Linked DNA regions of Homo sapiens. The protein of the gene in region 6 purifies or fractionates together with the protein of the main gene of each other region. This does not show direct contact. Each region holds a gene or a part of one and is shown on either strand. Other genes may lie near its edges. The genes, in order: STK36, MYO9B, SETX, MGME1, BDH2 and CITED1.

Region 1 (3,577 bases), on a different chromosome or scaffold from region 6:
TATTGTCTAGGGCAAGAGCCTCAGGCCTTTGGAGTTACTCTTTGCTTTTCTCCACAGGAGCCCCGCAAGTGAGCCAGCCACTGCGAGAGCAGAGTGAGGATATACCTGGAGCCATTTCCTCTGCCCTGGCAGCCATATGCACTGCTCCTGTGGGACTGCCCGACTGCTGGGATGCCAAGGAGCAGGTCCGAGCTACAATTGGTTGTTCCTCTCATCCTACTGCCAGAGGAATTGAGGAGGCTAGCCCCAGTTTTTCAGAAAGGCAGAAAAACAAGCTTTTAAGCCCCTCCTTTAGTACTTCCAGAAACAGATGCTCCCACCCTGGGCCATTTGTAGAACATGATATAGCCAGAATCCCAGAGCCCATGGCCAGTTGGTGAGGGAGAGAGCACAGTGATAAACTGCCCAGATGGTGGGGCAGCTGATCTGAAGCCTCCAGTGATGCTTCCTCAAGGGCTGAGAATTCAGCTTTCCTGATCCCTGTTGGTCGGTAATCCTTTCCTCTGTACCTGGCTACACTGGGGCCAAACTAGGCCATGACTTTTGGTTCTCTATTGGTGATGAAGACTGGGAATAGAATGGGGTCTGAGGTTTCTGGTGAATGTGGGAAGAGTGACTAGGAAGAGACTGAGAGTCCTGATCATTTTGGACATATGTGAGGAATAGGGTTGTAATCATGTGGATAGGATTGAGCCTTCAGGTATGTCTCTATAGGTCTGTTGGCATTTGGCAAATCAGCTAACTGAAGACAGCAGCCAGCTCAGGCCATCCCTCATCTCTGGCCTGCAGCATCCCATCCTGTGCCTGCACCTTCTCAAGGTAATCCTCTTAACTCCTGGCATCACAGCTTTATTTTTAACTCCCAGTGCAGACAGAGAAGCAGAGAAACAGACCAAGAGAGGAGGACTAAAAGAGAGAGAGACTGAGAGAGACCATTTGAGACACCCCCTTGGAAGACTCCTTTCTGCTTTTAAATCTGTTCAACTGAGAGGACCCCACTGTTAGCCAGTCCTCAGCGGAACCGAGAAGGGTCCCTGTCTCACTATCTCATAGCAAGAGGCAGAAGGGGGTTCTCTCACACTCCCAAGTGTGGGTACCAGATCTTTTGAGGGGCTGGCCGGTGTTTCCGCTGAGCCTTCAATCTTGGAGCCCGGGGCCTGCCCTGCCTCACTGCCAGACTCCTTCCTTCTCCCTCAGGTTCTATACTCCTGCTGCCTTGTCAGTGAGGGCCTGTGCCGTCTTCTGGGGCAGGAGCCCCTGGCCTTGGAATCCCTGTTTATGTTGATTCAGGGCAAGGTAAGCCAGCTTCCCCTGGCAGCCCCACTGTCTCAGCCAGAGGTTGTTCTGATATCTTAGGTTTCCTTTGTAGGTAAAAGTAGTAGATTGGGAAGAGTCTACTGAAGTGACACTCTACTTCCTCTCCCTTCTTGTCTTTCGGCTCCAAAACCTGCCTTGTGGGTAAGTCATAAAGTAGGGTGTCTCCACAGAAGTCTTCTAGCCACATAGCTAACCCTCACAAAGAGTATGGGGAATGGTACCCTACAGCATATCCTTAGGAGGAATTGGGATAGAGAGCGTGAAGCTTTCTCTACAAAGAACAGACCTAGACTCCCATCAACTTTGTGCCTTGGAGGTAGACATGCAGCCTAGGTGAAGAACACCATGCAAGGGAGAGGGGAGGCCGCTTACCAACCTCCTTTAATACTGCTGCATCCCTTGATGTATCTCTTTATTCCAGAATGGAGAAGCTAGGCAGTGACGTTGCTACTCTCTTTACCCATTCGCATGTCGTCTCTCTTGTGGTAAGTTTTTAACCTTCACCCTCCTCCCCTTTTCACCCTAGCATCTACCCCTTGTGGAAGTGGGGGAGTCACTATCCAATTTGCATCTGTTTCTGGAGGCATTCTTTTGGACCAGGACAGAGACATAAATCCTCTCTGCCTGTCCTGAATGCCATTTAGATTTGGACATTCTTTCTCCTCTTTTACCTCTCCCACAGAGTGCAGCAGCCTGTCTATTGGGACAGCTTGGTCAGCAAGGGGTGACCTTTGACCTCCAGCCCATGGAATGGATGGCTGCAGCCACACATGCCTTGTCTGCCCCTGCAGAGGTGAGGCCCCCCAGGGAGGGCACAGACATGTTTTCTCTGAGTCAGACACTAGGACTGCATTCAAGGGGAAAAGACTGAAATGCCAGCAAGCCTGGAGTAAACTGAGGAATGGAAAAGGAATCAAGGAGCCCTTCCTTTTCTAGATTTGTCGCCGGATGATAGGCCCCTCTGAGCCCAGATTGATCTGGACTTTAGATTTCTTTTTAATATGCAGAGCTTCTAGAGAGTGAGGGAGGGAAGGGAAGAGGAAGGGTGACTAACCTGAGTTTTCTGAGTAGTGTGAGAACCCTGCCTGCTTCGTTCTCCTCCTCCAGAAGCTCATGCTCTTGGCAGAGTCCTTCCTAATGCATAATTTCACCTCTGACTGCAGCTTCCACTCTGCTTTCCCCACTTGTTCTTCTTAACAGATGGAAAAGGTGGCTGACATCCTGTGAATTCTTCAGGAACTCAGTCCATTATGTAGCCTTCTTTCTGCTTTCTCCTTTCCCAGGACTTTTCTTCCTTTCATTTTTAGACCCTTTGGAACTCATCTTTCCTTCATTTTGTAAAAAGAAGGATAGACTTTATAATCAAATTATTGTCATCCCTTTTTTTTTTTTTTTTTTTTTTTGAGATGGAGTTTCACTCTTGTCCAGGCTGGAGTGCCATGGCGCGATCTCGGCTCACCGCAACCTCTGCCTCCTGGGTTCAAGCGATTCTCCTGCCTCAGCCTCCCGAGTAGCTGGGATTACAGGCATGCACCACCATGCCCAGCTAATTTTTGTATTTTTAGTAGAGACAGGGTTTCTCCATGTTGGTCAGGCTGGTCTCGAACTCCTGACCTCACATGTGATCCGCCCACCTCGGCCTCTCAAAGTGCTGGGATTATAGGTGTGAGCCACCATGTCCAGTCTTTTTTTTTTTTTTTTTTTTTTTTGAGACGGAGTCTTATTCTGTCGCCCAGGCTGGAGTGTAGTGGCACGATCTTGGCTCACTACAACCTCCGCCTCCCAGGTTCAAGTGATTCTCCTGCCTCAGCCTCCCAAGTAGTTGGGATTACAGGTATACACCACCATGCCTGGCTAATTTTTTTGTGTGTTTTTAGTAGAGATGGGGTTTCACCATGTTGGCCAGGCTGGTCTCGAACTCCTGACCTCAAGTGATCCATCCGCCTCAGCCTCCTAAAGTGCTGGGATTACAGGAATGAGCCACTGTGCCCAGCCTGCCATCTTTATATATGTAGAATTCTTTTTTTTTTTTTTTTTTTTGAGATGCAGTCTCACTCTGTCACCAGGCTGGAGTGCAGTGGCGTGATCTCGGCTCACTGCAACCTCCACCTCCTGGGTTCAAGCGATTCTCCTGCCTTATCCTCCTGAGTAGCTGGGACAACAGGTGCACACCTCCATGCCCAGCTAATTTTTGTATTTTTAGTAGAGACGGGGTTTCACAATGTTGGCCAGGCTGGTCTGGAACTCCTGACTTCCTGAT
Region 2 (3,577 bases), on a different chromosome or scaffold from region 6:
GCCCGGAGGAAAGCCATCCCCAGGGTAAGAACAGGGGTCTCCCTATGTTGCCCAGGCCGGTCTCGAACTCCTGGGTTCAAGTAATCCTCCCACCTCAGCTTCTGGAGTAGCTGGGACTACAGGTGCAAGTCCACATTCGGTAAATTTTTCAATTTTTTTTTTTTTTTATTAAAGACGGGATCTCCCTATGTTGCCCAGGCCAGTCTCAAACTTCTGGGCTCAAGTGATTCTCCTGCCTCAGCCTCCCAAAGAGCTGGAATTACAGGCATGAGCCACTGCCCCTGGCTAGAACATTTACATCACCTTAAAAAGAAACCCTGTACCTTTTAGCTATCACCTATCCCACTGATTCCCCCAAAGACCCCCCAAGTTTATTCCCATTCTCCACATCTGCTGAGCTGCCTAGGTGGCTCGCTACCTGGCCCCCCATCTGCCCCATGCTTCTAGTTTCCACGTGGAGTGCTCTCTGCCTGCCAGGATCTCCCAATGCTGCCCATCTGTGACCCAGCCCTTGCGGCCTTCAGACAGATGCTCCTCCTCCTGGCCATGAAACCCACCCTCTGCCTGGTTTCTACAAAGGACACAGGGAGCTCGTTCCATTTTCTGATCACCTGAGAGCGGAACTGGATGGTGGGGGACAATGGTCTCAGGATTTGCTGCCACCAGTGTCTTCGGTGAAACAGCCACTCCCCAGCTCCCCTTGAAGCTCATCCCTGTGCCAGGGACCCTGGTGATCACACCACAAAGGCAGGGGAGAAAGAAGTCACCTCAGGCCAGTCACGGGCTTGACCTGTAGGTCTCAACAGGCTCTGCTTGCCCCTCAAAAGCTTGGTGTTCTTCTATATCATTGTTTCTCCCCTGGAGCTGACTCTGTCCTCAGGGACACTTGGCAACCTCTGTCCCGAGACATGTTTTTTTCCCTTTGAGACAGAGTCTTGCTCTGTTGCCCAGGCTGGAGTGCAGTGGCATGATCTTGGCTCACTGCAACCTCCACCTCCCGGGTTCAAGCGATTGTTTTGCCTCAGCCTCCCAAGTAGCTGGGATTACAGGTGCACCACACCATACCTGGCTAATTTTGTGTGTGTGTGTGTTTTTCTTTTTTTCTTTTTTTTTTTTTTTGTATTTTTAGTAGACACAAGATTTCACCATGTTGGCCAGGCTGGTCTCAAACTCCTAGCTTCAAGTGATCTGCCTGCCTCAGCCTCCCAAAGTGTTGGGATTACAGATGTGAGCCACTGCGCCTGGCCCAGAGACATATTAAGGGTTGTTGGGACAGGGAGGATGCTACCAACATGAAGAAGGTTGAGGCTGGAAATGCTGGTCCACACCCCGTGGTGCTCAGGGTCCCACCACAGAGAGGGACCCAGCCACAAATATCAGCAGTGCTGAGGGTGAGAGACCCTACATTAATTATTTGGAAAAAAATTGATTCTTTCCTCACACTAAATACCAGAATACACAGAATACATTCCCAATAATTTTTTTTTTTTTTGAGATGAGTCTCACTCTGTCACCCAGGCTGGAGTGCAGTGGCACCATCTTGGCTCACTGCAGCCTCAACCTCCCAGGCTCAAGTGATCCTCCGGCCTCAGCCTCCTGAGTAGCTGGGACCACAGGCATGTGTCAACATACCTGGCTAATTTTTGTATCTTTTTTGTAGAGACGGGGATTCACTATGTTGCCAAGGCTGGTCTGGAAGTCCTGGGCCCAAGGGATCCTCCCACCTCCGCCTCCCAAAGTGCTGGGATTACAGGCATGTAATCACTTGGCCCCCAAAGGGTTATTAACCCAAAGGGTTATTAACCAGGAGAATCCACCTAGCCTCTCTGATTTCTCTCCTCTCTCCTTCCCCATTCACTTTGTGTATTTAAATGTGCGGGCTGGGCATGGTGGCTCACATCTGCAATCCCAGCACCTTGGGAGGCTGAGGTGGGTGGATCACCTGAGGTCACGAATTCAAGACCAGCCTGGCCAACATGGTGAAATTCCATCTCTACTAAAAATATAAAAATTAGCTGGGCGTGGTAGCGGGTGCCTGTAACCCCACCTACTTGGGAGGCTGAGGCAGGAGAATCGGTAACTTGAAGCTGGGAGGTGGAGGCTGCAGTGAGCCGAGGCCGTGCCATTGCACTCCAGCCTGGGCAACAAGAACGAAACTCAGTCTCAAAAAAAAAAAAAAAAAAGAGGGCAGCATCCTAGGACTTCGGTCAGTCAGATGATGACAGACGCAAAGTCACTTAGGAGTCAACAGAACCCGGAACTAGTGTTTCTCACCCAGAGCTGACTCTGCCCTCCAGGAGACACTTGGCCATGTCTGGAGACATTTCTGGTTATCCAGACACAGAGCAGGGGGTGCTACTGGCATCTGAAGGGTGGAGGCCGGGGATGCTGTTCAACACCCTACAGTGCAGACGGCAGCTGCTACCCAAGAGAATGATCTGCCCCCAATGTCACCAATGCTGCAGCTGAGAAGATATGCTTTAAATCAATCAGAAAAGTGGCTGGGCGTGGTGGCTCACGCCTGTAATCCCAGCACTTTGGGAGGCTGAGGCGGGTGATCACTTGAGCCCAGGAGTTCAAGACCAGGCAACATGGTGAAACCCTGTCTCTATAAACAATACAAAAATTAGCCTGGCGTGGTGGTGACAGCCTGTAGTCCCAAGCTACTAGGGAGAATGAGGTAGGACGATCACTTGAGCCCAGGGAGGTTGTCAAGCCTGCAGTGAGCCAAGATCATGCCTCTGCACTTTATCCTAGGTGACAGAGTGAGACCCTGTCTCAAAAAAAAAAAAAAAAAAAAAAGCAAGATTCACACACTTTCAGCCTCCTCGAGGACCCACGGGCACTTGACATGTTAGCATGGTTCCAACCCCACGCTCACTTGGCTGCAGGATATTGAGAGTGCGGAGTGCAAGAGGGAGCCAGCCTTGAGGACGTACCTGCCCCGGTTCAGGCCACTTTCTGCACTCCAGGACACCCCAACCCTTACCTTCTCCCTTCCCTGCTAAATCATGGGCCTGACTCCCGAGGGACCACCCAGGGGAAAGGAACCAGTTTCCACGGCACCTATGGGCCAAATAAGTACGATCACACTTTCTCCGCCTCTCTTGTTCTTGTGCCTACCCAATAAACAGCATCTCCACGTGACAAGACAAGGACCCCAGGGGTCTTCCCAAGCAGTGGGCAAGCTACCCCTTGCCCCCCATGGCACATTCACCAGGAAATTAAAGCCCCACGTGAGTACCCATACCCTGGGAATCAAAATCTCAAATGTCACCCTCCTGCCCCCGATCTCGTCTGCCCTGGAATGGGATGCAGGAGGTGGCAGACGCCTCCTCGTGGAGATGCTCTGAGCAGTGAGCCCAGGAAGATCCACAGCAAAGCCTTGAGCCTCCCACTGCTGCTGTGCTGCTGTGACTTCACTCGTGAGGAAGCAGCGGTGCCCACCTCGCAGGCAGAAGACCCAGGGCACGGCTGACTGGGGAAGCTCTCAGGTCTCCCACTTCCCCCATAAGCGAGTCCCCAGGCCAGGCAGGCTCCCGTCACAGGCTCGCCTGCTGCCGGCACCTTCACAGAC
Region 3 (3,577 bases), on a different chromosome or scaffold from region 6:
TGAGAAATGGATAGCCTAAGGATAAGTCTGTAGAAAATTACAGTAATACCTATGGTGAAGCATCCTATATTTTTGGTTTTGACACATTAGCTCTCTTTTTGGTGGGTGCTCAGAGAGTTGCTTTAATTTTGGTTTTGCAACTTGAGTATTGTCTGGACACACCCATTTGTCATTCACTAATGATTGCAAGCCGTTACAGTCTGATGAAACTAACAAAATAGACCTCAAGAAGAACTGAGTTGTATAAAAGCTTAAGAGGATTCACAGTAGTTTAGAAGCAATAATTTTCTCCTTAAAGACAAAATATGCCCTATTGAGGTTTCCTGGGCTTAGCCATTAGGCCAGTGATGATTTTAAATTTGAAGACAAAACCACACACACAGCCTTTTGAAGAAGAACCATGGAAGCACATGTTCTCTTGTTGGTGTGCTCTGCAGCAGTATTCTCCGTTATCTTCTAGCGGCCATGACACTCACCTATTTTGGTAGTAACTCCTATATATTTTGAGAAAATTTAGTCTTGCTTTTTTGGTTGTGGAAATAGGCTAGTTTTCTAAGTGAAATAAAAAGCAAATTCTGTAATTTTCTTAATAGAAGGTTTCTTTTGTTGTCTCCTTTGTTAGTACTTATTTTAAAGTACACAACATTTGGAGCTTCAAGTAAGGTAAGTGGGAAAAGAAGTATGCAACATTTTATTTGCATGGTAGTCTCACTTAAGTTTTTTAAAGCTTAAATTGGCTGCAGTCTGTTAGCTGCTGAAATCATGCTTCAAATGTTTGAGAAACCTCCATGAAGTTTCACTTTCTGTTCTTACGTCTTCTAAGTTCACTTTCCATATTAAACTAGGTTACCGGAAAAAAAAACAGCTTCTGCAAGCTGTTAACTTACTAGTAGTGTGATGTTGGCCTCTTAGGTATAAGTAATTCTTCTTTTGAATAAAATAATTTTAAATTCTGCAGAAATACATTGAAGACCTTATCCCATGTTACTTGGCATTTCCTAGTCTGCAGTGCCCTTGTACTAGAAGGCATTAATAAAATGTAATTGAGTTAGAGTTTGTGTCAGGAAAGGGCGGTACTCTGCGGCTATCACTGCATACTCTTTTTCCCCCCCACGTCGATGAGAACTGTGTAACTCATGTTATCCTTTTTCTCTGCTTTCAGGAAGCTCCTCATGTAGAACTTAGTGAAATTAAATTTCTTCTAAAGAAGTTTTGATTTTGTTTTTTGAAATCTCATTTTTAAATGTCCTTTTGTGTGTATGTACTTTAATGTTGAAAGCTACCCTAAATTCTTTTTAGAACCATGAAGAAAGTATACCTCTTCAAAAGCATAAGTAAAAGTAATATTTAATAAATTTTAAAAAATCAATTCATATGACAATGTATTTGATTATGCTTATGCATTTCTAAATAATTATTTAATTGTGGGTATAAGAAGAAATTAAAGAATTTTAAAAAATCACTTTATTTTAGGAACTAGCTTTATGCCACAGAAGCCTCAGCAGCCAAGCCTAGTTTCTGTTGAGATGTTTTATATTTCCTGTTGGTAAAGATTATGTATTCTGAATTTTAGGGTGACGGTGATACTCAAAAATCTCACACTGCCATGTTTCCATTCCCACATACTCAGTGTCTTCACTTAGGTTTCTTTTGTTTGTTTGTTTTGAGACAGAGTTTCACTCTGTCACCCAGGCTGGAGTGCAGTGGCGCAATCTTGGCTCACTGCAACCTCTGCCTCCCACGTTCAGGCAGTACTCCTGCCTCAGCCTCCCAAGCAGCTAGGATTGCAGATGCGCACCACCAGCTAATTTTTGTATTCTTTTTAGTAGAGATGGGGTTTCACCATGTTGGCCAGGCTGGTCTCGAACTGCGGACCTCAAGCAGTCTGCCCACGTCGGCCTCCCAAAGTGCTGGGCTTACAGGCATGAGCCACCGTTCCCAGCTTACTTAGGTTTTTTAACCTCCTTCTAACCTTTCTCCCTGAGTGGAGAGTTTTTAAACATTTTTAAAAACTGCCTCTCCTGTGAATTTTATTACCACCAATATATTGTGTCTCTCTTTATGTACTGTATGTTTATCTGAGCTTTATATCTAAAAAGAGGAGGGCTTTTTCACGTCCCACTAACTAGTTTTAGATCTCTTTGAGGGTGACATCACTCCTGATGAGAATGCTGAGCTAGGTCCATTCAGTTTATGAAATGAACTTAAGTTTGTAGTTGGTAACTTTTTTCCCCATTCCAAAATCTGTACTTTGAAAATATTGGTAAGTCTGGGTCTCTATATATTTTCTATCGGTACTGTGTTGTTTTGAGCCTTCTCTGTAGCACAACTTTATGTTGCCTTATGATACTTATTCCTTATACAATGCTTTTATTTTTCTGTATTTTTCGTATGTCAAAAATAGAAGGATTTTTTTAGTTTAGTGAATCAGTGATTGATAAGCCAGCCAGCAGAAGATTTGGGTTTTAGTGACACATTTTAAATTGAAACCAGGGTCACAAGTTGAAAGTGTACCTATTCTTGACACACAGTAGGTCTGAAGTTGGTTTTCTTCTTGATGTCATCTTTTCTGGCTGTAGGTACAGAATGAGCACATGTTGTTGGTGTACGCCAGGTGGTGCTTCCACCATTGACTTCCTAAAGCGCTATGCTTCCAACACTCCGTCCGGTGAATTTCAAACAGCCGACGAAGACCTCTGCTACTGCTTGGAGTGTGTGGCTGAGTACCACAAAGCAAGAGATGAATTGCCATTCTTGCATGAGGTAAAATATATTAGATGGGCAATATTTTTCAGAGCTTGATAGCTGGGAAGAGAGTAAGTTTGAACTCCGTTGGAAGTATTCAGAGAAATGATGATACGATTTCAACTTTGTGGGTTTTTTTTTTTGTTTTTGTTTTGTTTTTGTTGTTGTTAGAGATGGAGTCTCACTCTGTCACTCAGGCTGGAGTGCAGTGGAGTGATTATACATATATCATTTTACACATTCGAGTATATTCTTAGGACAAATTCCTGAAAGTGGAAGTGCTGTCTCATGATTTTCCATGGGCCACATGGGTTTTCATAGTTTGTTTTGCTATGTTTTGGAGACAAGGTCTTTGCTCTGTTGCCCAGGCTGGAAGTGCAGTGGTGCGATCACGGTTCACTGCAGCCTCAACCTTCTGGACTCAAGCCATCCTCCCACCTCATCCTCCTGAGTAGCTGGGACTACAGGCATGTGCCACCATGCTCTGCTAATTTTTAAAATTTTTTTGTAGAGACGAGGTCTTATTATTTTGCCCAGGCTGGTCCTGAACTCCTGAGCTCAAGTGATCCTTCCGGTTTGGCCCCCCAGTGTTGGAATTACAGGCATGAGCCACCATGCCTGGCCGACTTTGAAGGCTAATATAAGTCAAGTACCTAACTCATTGCCTGGTATATACTAGGTGCTGAGTAAATGTTTATCACGGATGGAATTGAAACCTGGATCAGAATTTTATGATCTGTTGCTTTTAGTCACATTGGTATAAAATAATTTAATGAAATAAAGTCATTGGGAGGGGATTTGTTTCATAATTTTTTGGTCAGTGCTATAATAC
Region 4 (2,880 bases), on a different chromosome or scaffold from region 6:
TACAAAGGTCCCCCTTGATCCTCCCATCTCCTACCTGAATATTGCTTTCCTTGCTAGGTGACCGTGGCTGAGGGCTTAGTGAGGAGGCTTTTTTTTTTTTTTTTTTTTAAACGGAGTCTCGCTCTGTCGCCCAGGCTGGAGTGCAGTGGCGTGATCTCGGCTCACTGCAAGCTCCGCCTTCCGGGTATACGCCATTCTCCTGCCTCAGCCTCCGGAGCACCTGGGACTACAGGCGCCCGCCACGACGCCCAGCTAATTTTTTGTATTTTTAGTAGAGACGGGGTTTCACCGTGTTACCCAGGATGGTCTCGATCTCCTGACCTTGTGATCCGCCCGCCTCGGCCTCCCAAAGTGCTGGGATTTCAGGCGTGAGCCACTGCGCCCAGCCGAGGACGCTTTCTTTTATGCACTTACACAGAACTCTCACCAAAGCTATTGGGCTTGTAAAATTCTGAATTATAAAAAAAGTGCAAACAATTTCCAGGTTTATAAAATTATCCTATAAACACACAAAGTAAACAAAACCAAAGCTTCATTACTCATATCTTGTATTTTATTTCTTATGAAAATGGCTACCCAAAGAAGTCATTGTAGCAGGCTACTATTTTAAGGCAGCAACTGTATAACTTAAATGCTAAGACTCACTCCATAAGACAGAAAACCCTTCCCCAGGGCTGTAATGGGCATTTAAGTTTCCCAAACCCAGGGACAACTAATTTTTATTACCTATTGAATAGAAACAAATGGATTTTAATAGTTCCCCTCCCCTATAGCTGAAAAACTCCACAAACAATAATTGACTCTATCTACATGATCTGTTGACTCACGCCAGAAATAGTTACTAAAACACTTAGAATTGTGATGTTCAAACTGGCCTCTGGCTACTTCTGGGGGGTTATTTGGTGTTACGCAATGACATATTGCCAGCGACATGGTGAATATACTGTCTTTATAGTCAGCAATGTTTAGTTGAGGCTAATCACGTATTTATTTTTTCAAAAGGTTAAATGTAAGCTTTTCCCAGCTGAAATATATAGAAAACCCCAATGTATGAAACAAGTTTTAGGCATTGGTGTTGGCAGCGGTAGTGGGCTGATGTGTCCTCCCTGCACACAGCTGGGGGCATGTAGCCCCTTCCCCTCTGGGTGAACCCTGGGGAAATCTTGGCACCCTCAGCCTCACTGCCTTCCAATCTCAGCTCAAAGACTGGGCATCCTGCCTGGGACCACGCCCCCCCCCCCCCAATGTCCCTCAAGGGAGTACAAGAGTCACCAGCATGACTGCCCATCCTGCGTGTCCTCCTTTCAGGTAAATAAGAGGTAGCATAGCTGGGATTTCGCGTGCCGAAGTCTAGGTCTTTATATCTAGACTTTGGGGCTTTTCAGTCTTTTTGGTAACAACACATTTCAACAAATTAATACTTCTACTTGTGTTCGTGTAGCACTCAGATCCAGTGGCACCTCATTTTTACACTGGAGTAAACAGCAATATATGTTCCCAAACTGTGAGAAGGTGCTGAATGTTCCCAAATAGCAACTTGCTCCCTATTCTGAATATTCTGGTTTCTGAATATTCTGGTTCTTTTTCTTTTCCGTATATTCTTCTAGTCGAAGAAGCCACTTGGTCCAGTACTGGGAACAGAGCTCTGCATCCATGAAATGTGGGTGGGCAGGTGATCCATCTTTGTAGGCCACCACAATTAAGCCACATTGAACCTAGGAAGAAACACAGGGCAATTCTCGTTTCACTACAGTAGGTCCAGAGTTTAGGTTCGTTTCCTTCTTACTCCAGGGCAAACTCAGTATAAAATAATCTACAGGATATCTCCTAACTCAGTTTCTAAGGTAGGTTGATCAAAGACTGCACCAGGACACAAGAACACAAAGATGACAGATAAAACATTGAAGACTGGGCTGTGATCCTTACAGAGCCATTGAAAAAAAAAAAAGGCCCAAGAAGAGGGTGGAAAAGTGCTTTTTTTTTCTTTTTTGAGACAGGATCCCACTCCCATCGTCCAGGCTGGAGTGCAGTGGCACAATCTCGGCTCGTTGCACCCTCGAAGCTGAGGCGGGCACCACTTCCGGCTGATTTTTCTATTTTTAGTAATGATGGAGTTTTGTCACGTTGCCCAGGCTGGTCTTGAACTCCTGGGCTCAAGCAATCTGCCCACCTCGGCCTCCTTCAAAGTGCTGGGATTACAGGCATGAGCCACCACCCCTGGCCAAAAAGTGCTATTTATTTATTTATTTATTTATTTATTTATTTGGAGAGAGACAGTCTTGCTCTGTTGCCCAGGCTGGAGTGCAGTGGAACAACCTTGGCTCACCGCAACCTCCGCCTCCTGGGTTCAAGCGATTCTCCTGCCTCAGCCTCCCAAGTAGGTGGGACTAGAGGCACACACCACCACGCCCAGCTAATTTTTGTATTTTTAGTAGAGACAGGGTTTCGCCATGTCAGCCAAGCTGGTCTTGAACTCCTGACATCAGGTGATCTGCCCAACTCGGCCTCCCAAAGTGCTGGAATTATAGGCTTGGGCCACCACACCTGGCCTATTTATTTATTTTTGAGACAGGGTTTTGCTCTGTCGGCCAGGCTAGAGTGCAGTGGTACAATCTCGGCTCACTGGAACCTCCACTTCCTGGGCTCAAGCAATCCTCCCACCTCAGCCTCCCAAGTAGCTGGCACAAGTGTGCGCCACCATGTCCAGCTAATTTTTGTATTTTTTTTGTAGATACGGGGTTTCACTATGTTGCCCAGGCTGGACTCAAACTCCTGAGCACAAGCAATCTGCCTGCCTCGGCCTCCCAAAGTGCGTGAGCCACTGTGCCCAGCCAAAAAGTGCTTTTTTAAGTGGGAAAGGAACAAGGAAGACGTTAAGCA
Region 5 (3,577 bases), on a different chromosome or scaffold from region 6:
CAAGGGTATCCAGTCAAATACATGTATTTCTGGACTAAACTGCAAGGAGAAGAAATGAGAGGGTCAGAAGAAGGGATGACACCCTTGAAGGCTAGACATGAGAGATCTGGCATGGCGGGCACCTGAGAGATACACACTGCACTAGTTGCTGAGAAACTCCAAACAGTGTCTAACAAAAGCAGCAGTCATCATTATAAATATATACACATATTATTTATAATGTGCATAATATATATTATAACATATAGTAATATAATTTATAATATATACAATGTATTAATATGTATACATATAATATATAATAATATATGAATAATACATATAATATATAGTAATATAATTTATAATATATACAATGTATTAATATGTATATGTATAATATATAATAATATATGTATAATACATATAATATATAATTATCTATAATGTGTATTATATTTTATAATTTATAATATATTATAAATAATATGTATATGGTTTATTTTGGGGGAATATAGAAATAAAAGATTCATAAAGAAAGGGAAGACTTGAAATTTTGTTTCAGAAACATTTCCTTATCTTTGTGCTTCCCCAGTGCAGCAGCTTTACTTTGACTTGTTTGAATTATAATTCAACATATTCCAATTCAATTAACTAATTCAAGGAACTAATTGCTGTTTGATTATGTAACCTGTTCTATTTTGCTGTAAGGGTTACCTTTCATATAGGTTCTCTGTTCTGATTTCTTTGGGTAAACTGCAATTAAAATCCTTTGGTGTTGGAGTTTGGTTCAGTGGGGTGAAGAAGTGGTGGTACACACCTAATAATCTGGGTACTCTCTTAGGGTTTCTCATGATGATGTGTGATTTTAGAGCTAAGCTGTCTCCAGCCACATGTGGCTACTGAGCACCTGAAATGCAGCTAGTCTGAAATGAAATGTGCTGCAAGTGTAAAATACACATGAATTTTAAAGATTTAGTATGAAAATATTGAGACGTTGGTCAAAGGGTACACTCTTGCAGTTATAAGACTTAATATACAGTACAGTGACTATAGTTATTAATAATGTATTGTATACTTGAAATTTGCTAAGAGGGTAGATCCTAGGTATTCTTAGCACACACATACATACACACAGAGGTAACTAAATGAGGTAATGGATATGTTAATTAGCTTGACTGTGATAATCATTTCACAAGGTATTTTACAACATATATGAAAACATCATGTTGAACATCTTGAATATATGCAATTTTTATTTCTCAATTATACCTCAAAGAAGAGAAAATTAAGAGAAAAGCTGCAAAGAGGAGAAAATTAATGTTTGAAGTTTGTAAGAAACTTCTAATAATTTAAATAAAAAATTTAGTAAGAAAAAATTAAAATATTAATTTTTTAACTTGAGTGCATGTTGAGATTATATTTTAGATATATTGGATAAAAGAAAATATATTATTAAATTAATTTTCACTTGATTCTTTTTACTTTTTTAATGTGGATACTAGAAAATTTAAAATTACACAGGCAGCTCACAACATGTTACTATTGGACAGGGCTATCCTAGAGGAGGAGGGCACAGAAGTGAAAAGCTGTCATGAAAAGTTAACCTAACAACTAGTAAATTTTCACATGTAAGTTTGTAATTAGGAACTGAATCCCTCAAATGTGTTAGCTAAATAAAGGATTTTAAGTATTCGTCCTCAAATTTTTCTATGCATGTAAGTCACAGATTTTTGTCTATAGGTTCACAAAATATAGATTTCATATCAGAGAGAGAATCTAAAAAGCACGGCAGTGGAGCTCAGTAGCTAGGGAATTTTCTTTCAACATGTGAGCGCCATGCTTTATAATACCTTGCAGACACTGAATCCCAAATTCAAGCTGCTGAGTTGCTTACCCGGGTACTTTTCCAGTTCCTGAAGTTTGGACTCATTAATGTCTGTGGCTATGACTTTGGCACCTTCTCTTGCAAAAGCCTAGTAGACACAAAGTACAAATAAATCCTTTGTTTACTTGAATAAACTGTGCTCATGAATGGAACATCATGTGGTCTTTTTCTCCTTTATCTTATTTTCATTGTTCTTTTCCCTATAAGATAGCTAGAATTTTAAACTATCTAGTCTTACCCCTTCTCCATTGTTATTATTTTTATCATTAATTAGAACAATGTGACATACATTGTGCTTGTCATCTGACTTAGTCCCTTTAAGTAATATCAAACAAAATAACGTTCTTAAAAAAATGACAGCTGTTTTCAATACTCTCAAAATACTGCTCTTCTGTAATGAGACTATATATCATTTCTGAGTTTGAGTTACTAAACTCCAAATAATAAGAGAAAAATTGGTTGTTTCAACACTTTTCCTACTAAGAGTATGCTAGTGCTTTCATAAATGTCAAACCATACCCTGCCATTATACTTAAGGTACTGTTATACTTAAGGTGCCGATATTAGCTTAAGTGGGGTACATAATGTAACAGAAATTGATATAAATCAGGAGAACAAGGTAACCTGTCTTATAACTCTGGAGTCATATATCTAAACTGACACAATTTCAGAAAGCTGTGTAACCCTGTTTGCCCTCTGTAGCGAATATATCATGATGCAGAGAAACTGAAGTAGAGAAGTTTCTCAGAGTCAATGGTTATCAGTGATGTCATGTACTAAATATGAGGTATTCATTCCTTCATCTGCCTGGGGTCAGGAGTAGGGACCTATTTATTTATTTGTTTATTTTTATAACTTAAGACAACAGAAGCACAAAAGTAAAAAAATAAAAAAGCAGAGCAGAAGTAAACAACCATGGCATCAGTCCACATAATTCAATATGTCAAGAGTTAGTAGGCAAACAACAAAGATAGTAACTTATAACTTACTAAGGCAGCTGCTTGGCCAATCCCCTGAGCAGCGGCCGTCAGGATGATGACTTTCCCATCAAGTCGACCCATAATGGAACCTGTGGTTTAATCTAAAGACATGTGTGTTTAATGGGTTATACTGTAGAACATGATCTTGAGCAGGCAGTAACATCTAGAATGAATAGTTCAGTGTGCTCTTTTAAGAATAATTTAGTGAGCTCCTTCAGGAACTTGAAGACAGCACCTCTGTGCAAGTAGTCCCATCATCTGAATTCTCCTAGAATGCTTACTCTGCATACCTAGCTTTGTATATCAAACACATTTACCATAACCCACTGAAGTAATGACTGGTGACAGACATTGGCCATTTTTTTTTTTTTTTTTTTTTTTTATGAGATGGAGTTTCACTCTTGTCACCCAGGCTGGAGTGTAATGGAGTGATCTCGGCTCACTGCAACCTCCGCCTTTTAGGTTCAAGCAATTCTCCTGCCGCAGCCTCCTGAGTAGCTGGGATTACAGGTGCCTGCCACCACGCCCAGCCAATTTCTGTATTTTTTGTAGAGACGGGCTTTCACCATGTTGGCCAGACTGGTCTCAAACTCCTGACCTCAGGCAATCCACCTGCCTCAGCCTTCCAAAGTGCTGAGATTACAGGCCTGAGCCACTGTGCCCAGCCCAGATATTGCACTTTAACCTACCTTATCCTTCCTTCAGTACCTGGAGAGGACAGCCTCTGGTG
Region 6 (4,041 bases):
TAGAATCAAGACCAGAGATCACCCGAGCACAGGGAGGAGATCAAGCTGGAACTTTTGCCTGAGGCAGGAAAGGTGCTTGATTCGGCCAGGTACTGCCCAGGCAGCCACCTACCCATATCACCAAGATGGGACATACTGCTTCCTCATGCAAGTGACTTCACAGTCCCAAGGTGTATGTGTGGGGGTGAGGGTGGCACTGTTCCTGGTTCAGAGGACAGGAATGTCCCTGAGTAAGCAACATATTGTCTCAATGGGCTACTAGCATCCAGGCTGGAGAGTTGGGGCCTCCACTGGGACTGGGAGAATGTGAGAAGAAGTCAGGGCAAGGAAGACCTAGAAAGCTAGAGGCTGCAGCACAGGGAAATAACAAGTCTCTAGCGCAAATGTCATGGAGCTCCAAAGCATGACCTTGGGCATGCCTGTGAGAAGCCAGGCTGATTAGGGTGGTCTGGGGGCTCTGAGGCAGCTGGAGCCAGAGAAGCTAGGAATGTGTCACTTTCCTCCATGTCTCAAGCCCCCTCCAAGACAGCCCCAGCATTGGGCTTTCCTAGGATGCCTACCCCAGAAACCTGAGTCCAGCCATTCCCATCTATAGTGACAAGTGAGGCACAGAGATTCAATGCCTTTTTAGTCAGGTAGCAGCGGTTCTGGGAGCAGAATCTAGCACCCCTATGGCCACATGCCTCACCTGACCACTGGCTAAGTCATCATACCTAGCTGGATTCAAAAGGCTTCCAAAGAAGTGATTTCCTGGCTCAAGTGCCAAAGGATAAGGGAATGAAGGCAAAAGAATACCTCCAAACCAGAAAATAAACAAACCTCTGAAAATCTCAACTTATTTTCCTGGAGGCCTGTTTACAAAGAAGAAAAAAATGTCCCATAGCTAGGCACAGTAGCACCCTCCTGTAGTCTCAGCTACTCAGGAAGCTGAGGTGGGAGGATCACCTGAGCCCTGGAGTTTGATACCAGGCTGGGCAACATAGCGGGACCCTATCTCTTTAAAAAAAAAAAGCCCCATATATTCTAGCTTTCATGATCAATTAGAGATGTAGAATTTCATATTTATAAATACCTCTTGGTCCAAAGAATCTTGAGGACCTTAAAAAGAGTCTCTAATCTTTCCAAGGAGGCTAGAATTCTCCGTGACACTCTCCACTCCGCAGCGGTCATTAAGAATCTGCTCAGACACTTCTAGAAAGTGGCCACTTACTACCTCTCTGTATCATCTTTGCATTGCTTACTTGGGTGGATGGGGGTAGGGGAGGGAAAAAATAGAGAAAGGGGTAAACATTTTTTTAAAAACATGAGGAAAAAATATCAGCTGTTGGGTCCCGCATCATTGCTTGATTGAAGCCCTGCTCCTTCTCTGAGGCAACCGTAGAAAAATATTTCAAAAGCAAGTGATCACCAGACAAGAAGTCTAACACATGTCGTCTTCAAGAGCCCTAGCACAATCAGTATCAGACAATTTTCCTGTCCTAAGAAAAATGTCTGGGGGCCCTGTCCATCTTTTCCTGTTCCTATCCAGCCTTCCCTCTCCTTTTTGCCGCTTGGTACCCGAATGTACAAAACGAAGAAAAAACAACAGGAGCAGCAGCAACAACAGCAAAACCAAAAGAGAAACATTAGAAAAATCAAAAGAGAGAACGAGCAAAAAAACTCTCTCTATTCTGATATCAGTTCGTGGGGGAAGACCATTTTACCGCGCCTCCCTCTTCAATCTGGGAGCTCCCCCAGAAGAGGCCCTGTGTCCATTCAGATCTTCTGCCTTCCATTACTGACCCACCACCCACCCTGACCCCAGCCTGGGTCTGCGCTCAATAGGCGCTCAGTAAGTGTTGTTGAATGCGTCTGAAGAAGCAATCGCATTTCCATCGGCATCCCTGGCTCTGCTTCCCCGGCTTTCTGCCCTCCTCCACCACCCTCTAGCCCGTTCGTGGGCAAAACTTGGCAACGCGGAAACGTCCCAGCCCGCTCTCCAAGCCGCGAGCTGACCACTGCGAAACGGCTGCGACAGGCGGCTGGGAAACCTAGAGCAACAAGTGCCTTCTCGCCGGCTGATGCCTGGCGGCCCCCCGGCCACCAGTTCCCAGTCCCGCTGCCCGCTCTTCGCTTCAGGCCTTCCCTTGGGCGAGCAGCCCCCTCCCGCCTAGACAGGGGTGGGAAGGGGAGAGGGAAAAGAGAAGGGAGAGGCAGGTGGGGGCCTCATCTTTAACCTGTTGGGGGACCAAAAGTTAAAATGGCACCAACCGGATGGTTCCATCTCGATTGCTATTTTCTCACTCAGAAGGAGAAATTTAAAAATCCAAACAGCACTGCGGCTTGGCTTGGACGCGCTCTAACCAGACCAGTCAGTTTCGCCACCTGAAAACTAAAGGCCCGTTGTTTGCGGACAGCTCGGCTGCCCTCCTCGCCGCATCCCAGATGGAGCCGCGGAACCGGGGGCGGCCGGGAGCATCCCTTGCACGGCGGGCGCGTGCACCCAGGCCACCGGGGCCCTGAGCGTCCGTTCCCGCAAGTGCTGTATCAGGAACTGATCTTAGAGACAGGATGGACAGGCAGGAAGGGGCACGGGGTGTCGGCCTCCGCGGCGAGTCCGCACTCCGGCGCCGGCTGCTGCCACTCTCGCGCCTGATCAACACTTACTGAGCGCCCGCTGAGCATCCGACGCGGCAGCAGGCTGAGCCTACCCCCTAGCCAAGCCGCCTGCGGTCAGTGCTAAAACCCCGCTAGGAGAAGAGTGAGAGAGGCTCGGAGAGGTGCGGTAACTTGCCCAAGGTCACAGCGCTAGAAAGTGGCGGAGCCGGGATTCGCAGCCAGGTCTCTCTGACTCCAAGTCCGGTGCTCTGCGAAGCAGGGACTCGGCGCGCGGCTCGCCAGCCCGCGTTTATAGGGAGAGGGGTGTGCGCGTGGGTGTGTGTGTGTGGGCGTGTGTCGGGGGAGGGGAGGGCTGAGGTCGACTGGGCAGTAGAGGCAAGTTGCCCAAATTCGCTAACTTCCATCCCGCAATTCCGCTGAACTCGGCCCGAAAAGCCCCCTCTTGCCTCAATTCCCCGAAGTAAATCTGAGCTTTGTGCAGCTCCGGAGCCAGAGCGTCCAGATGCGGTCCGGGAGATTAGCAAAGTCGGTGGAAGCCAAGCTGGAGAAAGCGCGGGCGCAGGGAGAAAAGGTGCTGCCGTCTCCCCGGGAGAAGCGGGCACCCGGCCCCGCTGGCCGGCAGGGGGGCGCGCTGGCAAGCGAACCCGAGCGCTGGCGGGCGGGCGGGCGGGCGGCCCCTCGCCCCCAGCAGAGCAGCTTTCCAACAGAAAGCAAGTCTCCCCAGAACCCTCCGGCCCGCCTGGCGGCCGCCCACTCCCCATACCCGCTCCACGGGAGTCCTCGGCCCCGCCGCCCAGCCCGGCGCCCAGCCCGGCGGCCCGGCTTACCTCTGAGAAGCCGCCTGCCCTGGAGAGAGGGAAGCGCGGAGCTCGGTGAGCCGCAAGAGAGGCGGCGGAGCCCCCAGCCCCTGGCACGCACGCCGCCGCCACCGCTACCGCGAACCGGTCGCGCTCAGCGCCCGCGGCCGCGCCGTTGGCCACCCGACCCCGGGGCGCCTGGGAAAAGCCCGCACCGCGCCGCGCCGCCGCTGCACCGCACAGTGCCGCGCCAAGCAGCCCCTGACCGAGCTGGTGCCCGCCCGCCCGCCCGCAGCTTCGGCGCCGGACTCCGGGGCGGTGGCGGTGGCGGCCACCGCGCTCCCTTCCCGGCGCTGGGGACCCGGCTCTCAAGCCCCCATTGCCGCCCGGAGAGCCCTGACGCACACGCACACGGCAGCAGACTGGCCTCGGCTAGGAATCCCAGGAAGGACAGACCCTTTTTTTCCCTTTTTTTTTCTCCCCTCAATTTCCACGTCTTTATAACCGGCTTAGGGCATTATTAGCACATGTCCTGGCTCGTGGGCGAGTTGGTGGCAAAATCTGAACTGGATACTCACGGAGGGCCCGCGCGGGTGCTGTGCCGTCCGCTGCTCTCTTCCTCCTCACCGAGAACTGCCCCTCGCCG

The links.
Region 1: the proteins of CITED1 (region 6) and STK36 purify together in Homo sapiens (affinity purification with mass spectrometry; one large-scale study listed by BioGRID and IntAct). This does not show direct contact.
Region 2: the proteins of CITED1 (region 6) and MYO9B purify together in Homo sapiens (affinity purification with mass spectrometry; one large-scale study listed by BioGRID and IntAct). This does not show direct contact.
Region 3: the proteins of CITED1 (region 6) and SETX purify together in Homo sapiens (affinity purification with mass spectrometry; one large-scale study listed by BioGRID and IntAct). This does not show direct contact.
Region 4: the proteins of CITED1 (region 6) and MGME1 purify together in Homo sapiens (affinity purification with mass spectrometry; one large-scale study listed by BioGRID and IntAct). This does not show direct contact.
Region 5: the proteins of CITED1 (region 6) and BDH2 purify together in Homo sapiens (affinity purification with mass spectrometry; one large-scale study listed by BioGRID and IntAct). This does not show direct contact.

Annotation. Positions count from the first base shown.
Region 1 is NC_000002.12:218,692,526-218,696,102, forward strand, and holds part of STK36 (serine/threonine-protein kinase 36), read left to right. Parts: intron 1-57; coding exon 58-185; intron 186-714; coding exon 715-819; intron 820-1,197; coding exon 1,198-1,296; intron 1,297-1,369; coding exon 1,370-1,458; intron 1,459-1,738; coding exon 1,739-1,802; intron 1,803-1,999; coding exon 2,000-2,110; intron 2,111-3,577.
Region 2 is NC_000019.10:17,082,252-17,085,828, reverse strand, and holds part of MYO9B (unconventional myosin-IXb), read right to left. Parts: intron 1-3,577. UniProt on the Homo sapiens protein: Myosins are actin-based motor molecules with ATPase activity. Unconventional myosins serve in intracellular movements. Binds actin with high affinity both in the absence and presence of ATP and its mechanochemical activity is inhibited by calcium ions.
Region 3 is NC_000009.12:132,348,438-132,352,014, reverse strand, and holds part of SETX (probable helicase senataxin), read left to right. Parts: intron 1-2,579; 5' UTR 2,580-2,586; coding exon 2,587-2,763; intron 2,764-3,577. UniProt on the Homo sapiens protein: Probable RNA/DNA helicase involved in diverse aspects of RNA metabolism and genomic integrity.
Region 4 is NC_000020.11:17,988,774-17,991,653, reverse strand, and holds the end of MGME1 (mitochondrial genome maintenance exonuclease 1 isoform 2 precursor), read right to left. Parts: intron 1,716-2,880; coding exon 1,545-1,715; coding exon of another isoform or gene 1,468-1,544; 3' UTR 532-1,467; downstream 1-531. UniProt on the Homo sapiens protein: Metal-dependent single-stranded DNA (ssDNA) exonuclease involved in mitochondrial genome maintenance. Has preference for 5'-3' exonuclease activity but is also capable of endonuclease activity on linear substrates.
Region 5 is NC_000004.12:103,093,327-103,096,903, forward strand, and holds part of BDH2 (dehydrogenase/reductase SDR family member 6), read right to left. Parts: intron 2,949-3,577; 5' UTR 2,929-2,948; coding exon 2,857-2,928; intron 1,956-2,856; coding exon 1,877-1,955; intron 1-1,876. UniProt on the Homo sapiens protein: NAD(H)-dependent dehydrogenase/reductase with a preference for cyclic substrates. Catalyzes stereoselective conversion of 4-oxo-L-proline to cis-4-hydroxy-L-proline, likely a detoxification mechanism for ketoprolines.
Region 6 is NC_000023.11:72,303,052-72,307,092, forward strand, and holds the start of CITED1 (cbp/p300-interacting transactivator 1), read right to left. Parts: upstream 2,864-4,041; 5' UTR 2,774-2,863; intron 2,372-2,773; exon of another isoform or gene 2,264-2,371; coding exon of another isoform or gene 2,251-2,263; intron 1-2,250. UniProt on the Homo sapiens protein: Transcriptional coactivator of the p300/CBP-mediated transcription complex. Enhances SMAD-mediated transcription by strengthening the functional link between the DNA-binding SMAD transcription factors and the p300/CBP transcription coactivator complex.